Linked DNA regions of Homo sapiens. The protein of the gene in region 1 interacts with the protein of each later gene in a biochemical or structural test. Each region holds a gene or a part of one and is shown in the gene's direction. Other genes may lie near its edges.

The links.
Region 2: the proteins of RAB3A (region 1) and SYTL5 form a complex in vitro, tested with the Homo sapiens proteins (one study listed by BioGRID).
Region 3: the proteins of RAB3A (region 1) and MYO5A form a complex in vitro, tested with the Homo sapiens proteins (one study listed by BioGRID).
Region 4: the proteins of RAB3A (region 1) and OCRL interact in a biophysical measurement, tested with the Homo sapiens proteins (one study listed by IntAct).

Annotation. Positions count from the first base shown.
Region 1 is NC_000019.10:18,198,591-18,201,043, reverse strand, and holds part of RAB3A (ras-related protein Rab-3A), read left to right. Parts: intron 1-598; coding exon 599-717; intron 718-2,194; coding exon 2,195-2,319; intron 2,320-2,453. UniProt on the Homo sapiens protein: The small GTPases Rab are key regulators of intracellular membrane trafficking, from the formation of transport vesicles to their fusion with membranes.
Region 2 is NC_000023.11:38,013,049-38,016,622, forward strand, and holds part of SYTL5 (synaptotagmin-like protein 5), read left to right. Parts: intron 1-3,574. UniProt on the Homo sapiens protein: May act as Rab effector protein and play a role in vesicle trafficking. Binds phospholipids.
Region 3 is NC_000015.10:52,371,869-52,375,442, reverse strand, and holds part of MYO5A (unconventional myosin-Va), read left to right. Parts: coding exon 1-139; intron 140-3,079; coding exon 3,080-3,319; intron 3,320-3,574. UniProt on the Homo sapiens protein: Processive actin-based motor that can move in large steps approximating the 36-nm pseudo-repeat of the actin filament. Can hydrolyze ATP in the presence of actin, which is essential for its function as a motor protein. Involved in melanosome transport.
Region 4 is NC_000023.11:129,557,206-129,560,779, forward strand, and holds part of OCRL (inositol polyphosphate 5-phosphatase OCRL), read left to right. Parts: intron 1-119; coding exon 120-230; intron 231-655; coding exon 656-745; intron 746-1,427; coding exon 1,428-1,548; intron 1,549-1,634; coding exon 1,635-1,796; intron 1,797-3,344; coding exon 3,345-3,446; intron 3,447-3,574. UniProt on the Homo sapiens protein: Catalyzes the hydrolysis of the 5-position phosphate of phosphatidylinositol 4,5-bisphosphate (PtdIns(4,5)P2) and phosphatidylinositol-3,4,5-bisphosphate (PtdIns(3,4,5)P3), with the greatest catalytic activity towards PtdIns(4,5)P2.

The DNA of each region.
Region 1 (2,453 bases):
AGGCTGGTCTCGAACTCCTGACCTCAGGTGATCCACCTGCCTTGGCCTCCCAAAGTGCTGGGATTACAGGCGTGAGCCACCACCACACCCGACCCCCTGTTTGTTTTTTGAGACAGGGTTTCACTCTGTCACCCAGGCTGAACTGCAGTGGCGCGATCTCACCTCACTGCAACCTCTGCCTCCTGGGCTCAAGCAACCCTCTCACCTGAGCCTCCTGAGTAGTTGGGACTACAGGTGTGAGCCACCACACCCTGTTAATTTTTGTACTTTTTGTAGAGATGGGGTCTTGCTATGTTGCTCAGGCTGGTCTGGAACTCCTGGGTTCAAGCCACCTGCCCACCTCAGCCTCCCATAGTGCTGGGATTACAGGTGTGAGCCACAGCACCTGGCACAGTACGTTTGGTGAATGACTCTGTGGAATAATGGAGCACTCATATATTCTGAGCACTGGTGACCCAACCTGCTCTTCCTGACACTTTGTGCCCCTGGGCAAGCTCCTGCTTCTCCCAGGGGGCTGAACTGGATGATATCAGAGCTCATTTCCTCTTCGAGGGCCTTATGTGCAGGTCCTCTCTGACCTTCATCTCTTCCTCCCTAGGACACAGCAGGGCAAGAGCGGTACCGGACCATCACCACCGCATACTACCGGGGCGCTATGGGCTTCATCCTCATGTATGACATCACCAACGAGGAATCCTTCAATGCAGTGCAGGACTGGTGAGTGTACCCCACTTGCTCTTTTTTTTTCTTTTCTTTTCTTTGAGAGAGGGTTTTATTCTGTCACCCAGGCTGGAGTGCAGTGGCACGATCAGGGCTCACTGCAGCCTCGACCTCCTGGGCTCAAGTGATCCTCCTGCCTCAGCCTCCCAAGTAGCTGGGACTACAGGCATATACCACCACACCTGGCTAATTTTTTTGTATTTTTAGTTGAGATGGGGTTTCCTCATGTTGCCCAGGCTGGTCTTGAACTCCTTGGCTCAAGTGATCTGCCCACCTTGGCCTCCCAAAGTGCTGGGATTACAGGCGTGAGCCATCGCTTCTGGCCTTCCACACTCATTCTGGGGCCATTGTCTCTGAGCCAAACTTTCTTCAAAAAATAATAAATAAAACGTAGGGGTCAGAGAAGGATTTCAGATGGAAAAGTAAAACTATAACCATATAGAAACAAATATCTGCAAGTGTAGGGTGGAGAATATAGAGACTATAAGGAGAGTTGGCATGGCCGGGCACGGTGGCTCACACCTATAATCCCAGCACTTTGGGAGGCTGAGGCAGGTGGATCACCTGAGGTCGGGAGTTCGAGACCAGCCTGACCAAGATGGAGAAACCCCATCTCTACTAAGAATGCAAAAATTAGCCAGACGTGGTGGCGCACACCTGTAATCCCAGCTACTTGGGAGCCTGAGGCAGGAGAATCGCTCGAACCCGGGAGGTGGAGGTTGCAGTGAGCCAAGATTGCCATTGCACTCCAGCCTGGGCAACAAGAGCAAAACTCTGTCTCAAAAAAAAAAGGAGAGTTGGCATAGGTTAGAGATTGTAAACATTTCAATTTTCTGCTCAGAAGTAATAACTTTAAAAAAAAATTTCTGGGTTGGGCACAGTGGCTCATGCCTATAATCCCAGCACCTTGGGAGGCCGAGGTGGGTAGATCTTGAGCTCAGGAGTTCGAGTCCATCGTGGCCAACATAGTGAAACCCTGTCTCTACTAAAAGCACAAAAAATTACCAGGCATGGTGGCTCATGCCTATAGTCCCAGCTACTTAGGAGGCTGAGGCAGGAGAATCACTTCAACCTGGGAGGCGGAGATTGCAGTGAGCCTAGATCGCGCCACTGCACTCCAGCCTGGGCGACAGAGCAAGACTCTATCTCAAAAAAAGAAAATTTCTGGGCTGGGTGGCTCATGCCTGTAATTCCAGTACTTTGAGAAGCGAAGGCAGGCAGATACTCCAGCCTGGGCAACAGACCCAGACTCTATCTCAAAAAAAACCCCAAAACACAGAAACAATAATGGGTCAGTCGGGGGCTGGAGTGGGGTGAAAGCGGGGCACATTGGGGGAAAGGATGGTGGGGAGGATGGAGGGGCAAGCTTCTGGGTCTTTCTTCCTCGGACAAGGACACAGGCTCCACATCAGCCCGTCAGGGTGGAGCTGGGATCCTCCAAGCCCTGACCTGCCCCCATTGGTGCCTCCTATAGGTCCACCCAGATCAAGACCTACTCATGGGACAATGCCCAGGTGCTGCTGGTAGGAAACAAGTGTGACATGGAGGATGAGCGGGTGGTGTCATCAGAACGTGGCCGGCAGCTAGCTGACCACCTTGGTGAGTGCCCAGCTGGGCTGGAGACCCACAAGTCTAGAAAAAGGACACTAAGAGAGGGGAGGGCACACACCCAAGGTCTTACAGCTAAAGCCAGGTAATTCACACTTTCTGCAAACTAGCCTTCATCCAGGAGC
Region 2 (3,574 bases), on another chromosome or scaffold:
TGGAAAAAATATAGATTGGGATGTCCTGTTTGCATTAGCCATGTTCAAGAAGGAAGAATTTAATTTGCTTTGAACTACTCACAGCTGCCATCTAATTATTTTTGTTGACTGTTACAGAGTTTGAGCTCCAAACACAGGAAGGTTATTTCTAAATCAGTTATACACAACAACCAAACAGCTATTGATTTTCTTTCAAGTGAATTCCCATCTGACTCTTATTGTTCTTGTGAATAATAGTCATATGTATGGCTTTATACTTAAGCACAATAGGATATAACTAAATATTGGCTCAACTCAGACCTAAAGAGTAGGTTCCTGAACAGTGAGAATATCATCTAGTGATAATCTTTCACTGCTTATACTGGGAAAAATGTTGAACCTGGGTCAGCAAACATGAAATGTAGGTTCAGTACTGCTCCTAATGATAATGCCAAAGGCTCACACTTTCTGAGGATTTACCGTGACTCAAGAACTATTCAAGTGTTTTCTATGTAACCAAGGCATACAGAGGTTCAGTCATGTTTCTCAGAAATTTTAGAGCCAAGATTTAAACCAGAGTTCCTGCTTTGTACCAGAGTCACTTTGGTCAGCTTAAGTAACTTCCAAAGGCATCTTCCTGGGGTATTTTTTCCTGCTGCACCAATTTTTACCTTTCTTCCTGATTCTCAGGCTCACTCAATCTATACTGGTATCTGCGAACCTGTCACTGACCTCACCCCATCTCCAGCATCTCACTGATTGGTTTCCTCTCCATGATCTTTTCTTAAGGGGACCCTGCATTCTTTGGGCCCCTCATCATTACTCAAGGCCCCTAGATCTACTGGCCCCCTCAGTCCTCCTAGTCCCTCAACCACCACCAACTCCTCCTCTCCTAGCTTAGCTCCCCCATTCCTGCTCACAGGAGCCAGGTAGCATCAGGACCTCCCCAATCTCATTTTCCTCTCTACCCTCTCCACACTCTGACTACTGTTTCAGCTTTTATTTCTTTCTTTAGTCAGGGCAATCTGCTCTGATGTCATATCCTACATCCTCTCTACACTGTCATAATAAAACTCTTTTGGTATGTACAAGTGTGTACCCTCCAAAGCAGGAGTGCTGGGCACTGGTATAAATTTGACCAATACAAAATTAAACACACACACACACCTGTGTGTTATGTTGTATATTATGTTATATATAATATTGTTGTGTGTGTACATATATGTTATATGTATGTATATTTAATTCTACAGTATATTATAGTGGTCAAGAGCACAGTCAATAGAGTCAGACCCCTTAGTCAGAATCCAGCTTCACCACTTACAAGCTGTGTAACACTGGACAAGTTACTTAACCTCCCTCTGCCTTGGTTTTCCTACCTGTAATATGGGAATAGTGAAAGTATCTAAATCAAATAATTGATATTGTAAACCAAAAGGTATCTGAGACAGGTCTCAATCAATTTACAAAGTTTATTTTGCCAAGATTATGGATGTGCCAGTGATACAGCCTCAGGAGGTCCTGACGACATGTGCCCAAGGTGATTGGGACACAGCTTGGTTTTATACATTTTAGGGAGCCGTGAGACATCAATCAGTATAGGTAAGATGAACATTGGTTCAGTCAAGAAAGGCGGGACAACTCTAAGCAGGGAGGGGGCTTCCAGGTCACAGGTAGATAGGAGACAAATGGTTGCATTCTTTTGATATTTTGATAAGCACAATTTACAGGAATAGTCACTTATGCCTTAGTCTGGCTTAGTGAAAAAACAGGGCAAAGGAAGCAATCAGATACACATTTGTCTTCTGTGACAGAGGGATGACTTTGAGTTCTCCCTGTCCTTTGTCCACAAGAAATTTCCCTGTGAGAAAAATTGTGAGGGAGGTATGTAGCTTTTTTATCTTTGTAGGTATCTTATTTAGGAATAGAATGGGAGGCAGGTTTGCCCAATGCAGTTCCCAGCTTGACTTTTCCCTTCGGCTTAGTGATTTTGGGGTCCAGAGATTTATTTTCCTTTCACAATGTAAAGATTGTACTGTTCATATATGTAAATCAAGAATTCATAACAGGGCCTGAAACTTGTATATAAGTGCTGAGTGTTCACTATCATTATTACCATGACTCATAAGGAAAAAGCATTAAGGCAAGTATAATAATGGAGCAGGAAATATACATTTAAGTGGAAAATATAGTACAACATGGATAATATGACATGTGTGATTAATTACGACTTGAATAATGCGAAGCATGTAATTATTTTTGGCTTTGCATTTGATATCTGAGGAATCCCACCATTTCACATGAAAAAGTGCATGTGACAAGGAATCTTCCAGGAATTTTGCATTAGAAGTTCCTTTTGATCCTCCTCAAAACCCTGTGAAGTTAGTACTATTATTATCTCCACCCTGTATGAAAAGAAACCAAGGTTCAGAGAGGTTAAGTAACTTAGTTTCTGTAACATAGTAATTGCCAAAGCTAGGATTTGAATGCAGAGCTTCCTGACTCCAAAACCTGACTCTTTGCAATTCTCCACTTGAGGTGTCCATTGGAACCCCATAGGACGTTAAAAAAAATCCATGGAACACAAACTCAAGAGATTCTGTTTTTTTGAAAAGCAGCTTTTGTGAGATATAATGTACATACTGTACAATTCACCCATTTGAAGTGTACAATTCAATGTTTTTTTTTTTTTAGTCTATTCACAGTGCGTTTAGCCATCACCACAATCTAATTTCAGAACACTTTCGCTCTGGGCGGGCATGTCCACAGAATCCCTGGGGTCTTAATTTCAAAGCCACAGACCTTGTAGGAGTCTTGAATGAACTTCAAATGATTTGTGAACTTTTTCTAGGATCCACAGCTTTCACTATCTTCTCTAAAGTGATAAAAATATAAGCCAAAAATGTATTAAGAAACTCTAGACCAGAATGGCCTTGAACTTTAAGGTACAAATCACTGGGGGACCTTGTTAAAATTTAGATTCAAATTCAGTAGCTCTGGAATGCGCTAGGCCTACTATCATTAATTTTAATGATAGGAATGCTCACTTTAAGTTAGATGTTATGTGCCCTAAAATTCCATTCTTCTCTTTAGTAGATCTATGCTATGAAATAACTGCACTCAATTATTATTGTTATATTTTTAATGTCATCGGTAAAATATTGGCAGACATTTATTTTCTTGATTGATGCATACTTATCCACAAAATAGCTATGGTTTTGGCTCTTGGCGCAAAAAGTCTAAAATATTTACTAATTGTTCCTTAATAGAAAAAGTTTGCCAACCTCTAATATAGACCATGGGGGAAAGCCACCTTTAAGGAGCAGAAATGTTGTTCATCTTACTCTCCACAGCTCCTTGCTACATGTGGCAGACATGACATTATCAATCAGACTTATAGGAATCCTAACCAAGTATGAGGGGCAGCAAGCTGGCTATATTTATGTATAACTCCTCCTCTAGAGGAGAAATCTGGGCAGATGAGGGTCAACTTCACTTTTAGTTTAAAAATACATCTCCCTAGAGCTTCAAGCTGCTCTCCTGGGTGATAGCATGGGTGGGTGTCCACAAAAGACCTTCATGCATTTTCAGTTAG
Region 3 (3,574 bases), on another chromosome or scaffold:
CAGAACCAAGGCAGCAACCATCATTCAAAAGTACTGGCGCATGTATGTGGTCCGCAGGAGGTACAAGATTAGACGAGCTGCCACTATCGTTCTTCAGTCTTACTTGCGAGGCTTCTTGGCCAGAAATAGGTATCGCAAGGTGAGGCATTATTTTCAACTTTGTTTATTCATTCTATTAGCATTAACCAAATTTCACATCTATACAGAGTACCACAGGGGCTACAATGAAGGTAGGAACTGTATGGGGACAACCAGCTATTGAAATGCATATTTATTTATTTTAAAAAATTCTTTTTTAGAAATAGGATCTCGCTCTGTCACCCTGGCTGGGGTGCAGTGGTGCAGTCATAGTACACTGCAGCCTCAAACTCCTGGCCTCAAGCAGTCTTCCCACTGTGGCTTCCCAAAGTGCTGAGATTATAGGTATGAGCCATTGTGCACATGCCCAGCCTGAAATGCATTTTAAAATACTAAATAATCACATACAGTTATTAACAAAACAATGGGAAAAAAACTTTTACCTCCTTCTTTCTCTTTGTTTATATAATTTGAAAAAAAAAGTATGTTAGTTTACTGTGGCTGCTATAATAAATTATCACAAACTTGTTACCTTAAAACAGCCAAAATTAATTCTCTCAGAGTTCTGGAGACCAGAAGTCCAAAATCATTATCAATGGGACAAAATCAAGTTGTCAGCAGGCTGCTCTCCTTCCAGAAGCTCCAGGGGAGAATCCATTCCTTGCCTCTTGCAGCTTCTGGTGGCTGCCAGCATTCCTGTGCTTGTAGCCACATCAGTCCAGTCTCAGCCTCTGTTTTCACAGCATTTTCTCTTCTGTGTATCTGACTTGACTTCTCCTATCTGCCTCTTATAAGAATAATTATGATAGCATTTGGTTCCACCCATGTGATCCAGGATAATCCTCCCATCTGAAGACCCTTAACCTAATCACATCTGCAAAGGCCCTTTTTCTGAATAAATAGCATTTGCAGGTTCCAGGGATTAGCACCTAATTTCCTTGGGGCCCCCTATTCAGATGACTACAGAGAACTTTGAATAGATAGAATATATGACAAACAGGTTAAAGGTTATTCCAAGAATGAGACAACCTTGGAAGAATTTACCATGGTGAAGAGGAGGCAAATTATAACATTAATGTGGTTAAAATTGTATTGACAGATACAATGCTCCAAAAGTTTTTGACAAATAATCTTACATCTAGCAATAATTAATGGGGTCACCAGAGTAGTCTTAATTATCACCTGTGACCATTGATGAACGATTTTTATCTCTTTCATTTTGGCAAGGTTTGGAGTCTATCCTACAGGCTATATTTCAAATCAGTGAGAAATACAAGCCTGGATATTAGAGCTCTATGGACATCACCATTAGAAGGAGCATTAATGGGGTGATTTGGGTCTCTAAGCACAGACAGTATATGGGTGTGACCTAGGCCCTATTTATTTATTTATTTATTTATTTATTTATTTTTATTTGAAGTGATTTTAGACAACAAAAAATTCGAAACTGGTGAGGCTTGAATGAGTGTATTTAATAGCTGTGTTTTGAAGATAGCTACTCCAGATCTTTCTGCTCACCCCTCCTTTATGTAGTCTCATGCTCTTTCTATATAAGCGTGAGATTTTAGGGAGGAAAGAGGTTTGAAGTTGCTTTTCAGATACACCAAACTAGTTACCTTCCTGTGTTCCTCACTACTTTCCTTAGGAACATCTGAGCTGGGTTTTGAGGTCACTGGTTTAGCAGTGGCAGCCTCCGGCCAGCTCAGGCTCCCACTGTGACTGGACAGGGTGGAAGGTGGTAGCGTAGAGGCTTGCTCACATGTAAGCCAACAGCCATCACATTAGTGCTCCTTCTAGCTGTATTTCAGGTCCAAGGTTCCCCTTCATGAGATTTGGAGTGGGGGGGTCTTAAAGAGAGTACAGGTGTTGATTAATTTCTCTCACTCATGATGAAAGTGAGATTGAAAATGGAAGCTCTGATTAAATGCTGTTTCCATTTGACTAAAATTACAAAAATGGACCCATGTCCAAAGTTACATGGGAGAAGCAAATGGAACAGGAAAATTGGCATTAATAGTTTTATTTATCCAGTCACTGTGCCTGGCTACCTCTTCTTAAAATTCAAGAATTTCTTCTCCATCTTTCCTAGAAAATGTTTACACGGTGTCTTTTTGGTGCTCTTTAGCGACAACAAATTCATCTAATAAGGCAAACTTTTGTTTGTTTATAAGTTTAGGGAAATATCATTTTTTTTTAGGAAATGTAACATAAAATCAAAAGTAAGATTAGTTTGTTTCACATCTTTTTACTTTTACCTTTCATTTTAAAGCCCCATCCCTCCTACCTTTGAATCCCAAAAGTGGATCCTTGCTACATTTGAAATAGCAATGGAAAATCCTCACTAGAATGGTATTCCTCAAATGTGGTAAACAAGAGTGTCATCTTTTAGTTTCTAAAAAAAAAAAAAATCAATAAATCAGTACAAACTTTTTAGTACCCCAAGTGTTGGCCTCTACAGACAGTTTGCTGCCCATACCCCGTGTCCTCATGCACGGGCCTAATAATGCATAGTGAGGTGGTATCAGCAGTCAGGGTGGTGGGGATATCTCTTATTTTAGTAGCACATAGTTTACAGGATGCCTGGTTCTGTTAATTTTATAGAGGATCATCTGTTGCCAACAGAAATCATATACTAATAAGAAACCTAATGTATTTTTTCTTTCTTTTTATAGTTGTTTTTCTTTTGGTAATCTGGTGCTTTTTATTTAGACAGCTTCCAACTCTATATTCTGCTTAGAATTATACACATAATATGTGCATATGACACATTTTTATGTATGTTTCTGAAATCACCTTCTAAAGTCTACTTTTCAAATCACTTTTAAAAATAATTTTGTAGCCTCCATATATCTGTGATAAGTATAATCTACATAGTACATTGTCAATTCAACTTTTATGTCTTTTCCTCTAGGTAATGTGTGGATTTTCAGCCCGACATAGATTGATAATCATGAGTGTAGTCCAGGGTCTTGACATTGCTTGCCCTTATCCTTTTCTGCAGATACTCCGTGAGCACAAAGCAGTCATCATTCAGAAGCGAGTCCGGGGCTGGCTGGCCCGCACACACTACAAGAGGAGCATGCATGCCATCATCTACCTTCAGTGCTGCTTCAGGCGGATGATGGCCAAGCGTGAGCTAAAGAAGCTCAAAATCGAGGCTCGCTCAGTGGAGCGCTATAAGAAGCTGCACATCGGCATGGAGAACAAGATCATGCAGCTGCAGCGCAAAGTTGATGAGCAGGTGTGTTTCACAAAGGGGCCCTGAGAGTGGAGTATGCCTGAAGAAATCCACCAGGATTATTTTCAATATTGTTTTTCTTTGACTTTACCCTTCGGTCTTAGTAAAAAGTAAAATTATGACCGTATTTATTTCCATAATGGGCATGGAAGTACTTATGAACTCATAAGGTGGATCACAATTGCAAAAACTAAGGCAGGAAGTTATTATTATTATTATTATTATTATTATTATTATTATTATTATTACTATTATTTG
Region 4 (3,574 bases), on another chromosome or scaffold:
AGAGATCTGGAATATTTGTGATCTGGACCTTCTTCTGTTAACCTGATAAGTTGAGAATATGATCCCAGTAAAACATTTTATCCCATAGCAGTATATGTATGGATTTCAATTCTTTTTAGGTGGCTGCAAAATTCGGGTTCAGGGGGACTGGATCAGAGAGCGCCGCTTTGAAATCCCTGATGAGGAACACTGTTTGAAGTTCCTCTCAGCTGTCCTTGCTGCTCAGAAAGGTAACTAAAGACTCAGCGATTTTCTTTCTTCTATTTCAACGGGAGTGGAATTCTGACATGCTGATACAGAGGAAAGTGGCCATTGGCAAAATACCTCACCCTTTAAGCCCTGATAGCTGATTTTTTTTTCTTCAGGAGTGAACACAGGGATAGGTTAGGGAAAAAATCTGCCCAGCTTTAAGGACACTAGGCAAGTTTTCAGAATATTCAGTGTCATGGCAAGCACAGCTTACCATAGACTATAATTCTCCTTCTGCCCCTAGATGACCCCAGAGCTGCCCTCATTTCCTTAGTTTCTTCCACTGTATCCAAAAATGGTGCTGGCCCCTGCATATAAGGAATGTTGAAAGAATGGCTTTTGGCTATAGTAAATTCTACTCAGTGAAAGACTTCCCAGTTTCTGACCATGAACCTTATCTCTCTAGCTCAGTCACAGCTTCTTGTTCCAGAGCAAAAGGACTCATCTAGCTGGTACCAGAAATTAGACACTAAGGACAAACCTTCTGTTTTTTCAGGTACTAAAAAGTTCCTGGTTTCCTTGTTGCTATGGTCATTGCAGAGTCAGTAGATTTTGTCAGGCCAAATATGGTGATGTAGATTAAAGCTGATGTCAGACACATTCTCCTGCAGAGTAGTTTTATCAAGTCCAGGCCCACTGACCAGTGTTCACTCCTTATCCTTCCTGTAGCATGGTAGCTGTTCAGGAGCCAGCTTAGCAGGGTGGTAGAAAGTACAAGCTCGAGAGCCAGACAGCCTGGATTTGAATCCCAAGTCAAGAACTTACTAGTTGTACAACCTTCATCAAGTTACTCAACAACTCTGAACTTCCCTTTTCCTTTCTGTAATATGGGAAGATTTTTAATAGTACTTACTTCTTGGAGTTTTTGTGATGATTAAGTGAGATCATGATATAGTCCCTTACTCTCAACCAGGCATTGTGCTCAGTCTTCAATAAATGTTAGCTATTACTAGTCTGTTCCAAGTTCTTATAAACTTCTATTGTTCTAGTTAGTATATCAGTGCTTCAGGGATAGGTATGCTTCTTCGAACTCCAATCCAAGTAATTTCTACCCTTATGATAGTTTTCTGTTTAGTAATACCACTGATCAAATTGTGATCAAATCAAAGCCCTGTTACCCTGGATATGTTGGATGTTAGATTTTTTCCCCGTTTGACTTTGGGGTCTGTGTCTTTCAGGGCTTCTTGGATTTGAAGACAATTTTTCTTCTATGAATTTGGACAAGAAAATAAATTCACAAAATCAGCCTACTGGGATTCATCGGGAACCCCCACCTCCACCCTTTTCAGTGAATAAAATGTAAGTCCCATGTGAAAACATATTTGCCTTGTAGGAGAATTATAGTTTAAACAATTTTACTTTTGAATCTCTCATTTATTTGCTAGGCTTCCACGTGAAAAAGAAGCTTCTAACAAGGAGCAGCCCAAAGTGACCAACACCATGCGGAAGCTCTTTGTACCAAATACCCAATCTGGGCAGCGGGAGGGTCTCATCAAACATATCCTGGCAAAGCGAGAGAAAGAATATGTCAACATTCAGACTTTCAGGTTAGTGTCTCTTTTGCTTCCTGAGTCTAAAAAGTTAGTATATATAACAGACAGTGGCCTGTTGATATTTAAGACATTAGCCTAATTAAGAATCAAAATATGATAAAAAGGAATGGTTGCCTGTTTCAAGCTCCTGTCTCTATGCTGGCCAATAACATGCATATCAGAAATAATGCAGATGCTACAGTTTCCCTTGGATTTTCTTTTTTTGTGTGTGTGGGTCAGGGTCTCTCTTTGTCACCCAGGCTGGAGAGCAGATAGATCATGGCTTACTGTAGCCTCAACCTCTCAGTCGTAAGCAATCCTCCCACGCCAGCCCTGCAAGTAGGTGGAACTACAGGTGCACACCACCACATCCAGCTAATATTTGTGTTTTTTATAGAGACTGGGTTTCACCAGGTTGCCCAGGCTGGTCTCAAATTCCTGAGCTCAGGCAATCCACCCGCCTTGGCCTCACAAAGTGTTAGGATTACAGGCTTGAGCCACCGTGCTTGGCCTTCCCTTGGATTTTCTAACTACTAATAATGCCATGTCTACTAATGTCTCTACTGAGTCCTAGAGAACCAAATCAAGGTCACATGTACTAGAGAATTTTCCCCTAGCACATTCCATAAGCAAGCGTGTTTATATATCTGGCCTGTTAAGTTTTTTTTTTTCAGCCAATATTAGAAAATTAAAGTCCATCATTACCACTAGCTCTTAACTTACTTACTTTGGTAAATAAAGAAAGTTTCACCCAGTCCTCTTGATTGGGAGGTCTATCTTGGGTTCTTTTATCTGTATTATTTTTTATTTCATCTTTTTTCTGGACTTGTGTGTGTATGCTGCATGTGAGGTACCATGTGGCATGTATCGCCAATGCATGAAGCAACACCACATTTCTTTGTTATTCATGAGCAGAATGTACCCTTCTAGTCCAAGATTCTAGTCCCATCTGCTATCCTGTCATACCTCATTTATTCTAATTCAGTCATAACTATATCCCTATGCTAAAACTTGCAGTTCCTCATATCCCCCACTATGCTTATATTTGTGTGTAAACAGTTAAGACAGTCATGAGTTTTCCCTTCTGCTTTCCCCCTTAATACTATGTCTGCCTCATCAGAATTTCCTACACAGATGTCCTTGTAATCCTTCAGGAAGTGAGTTCCTGGAGTCAACTATAGCCCCTTATAGAACATTTATCCATATTTGACTAGCTTACAGCATGAAGATACCTCTTTCCCATCCATAAGCTCTCCTATCAAGTATGAGTTTGGATGGAGCTTAATTGAAAGGAAATGTGGTATAGCAATTACCTTTGCATTTTTTAAAAATAAAGACTTGGTTTCCTTCTGTAGTTTTACTTAATGTAAAATTTAGAGAAAATAAGCCCACTGCCTTTGTGTTCTAGATGCAAAAGATCTTTCTTACATATGTGGCAAAACATTTTGAGGAATTATGTTAGCATATTGTGAACATACCTTTGTATGGAAGCGAAAAGAAAGAACTTCTGTTGGTTTATACTTGATCTTTGTTTTCAAATTATCTTTTCGTATTATGTATTAGATTTTTTGTTGGAACTTGGAATGTGAATGGCCAGTCTCCAGATAGCGGGTTAGAACCTTGGCTGAACTGTGATCCCAATCCTCCTGATATCTACTGCATTGGGTAAAGAACACTTCTGGAATTTCCTTTTGGCTATATGTTTGGTGTTCATTTACATGATGTTTTGCCTTTTTTAAAAAAGACTGTTGGTAAAACCTACTGTAGACTATACACGAGAGTTAACTTGCGGG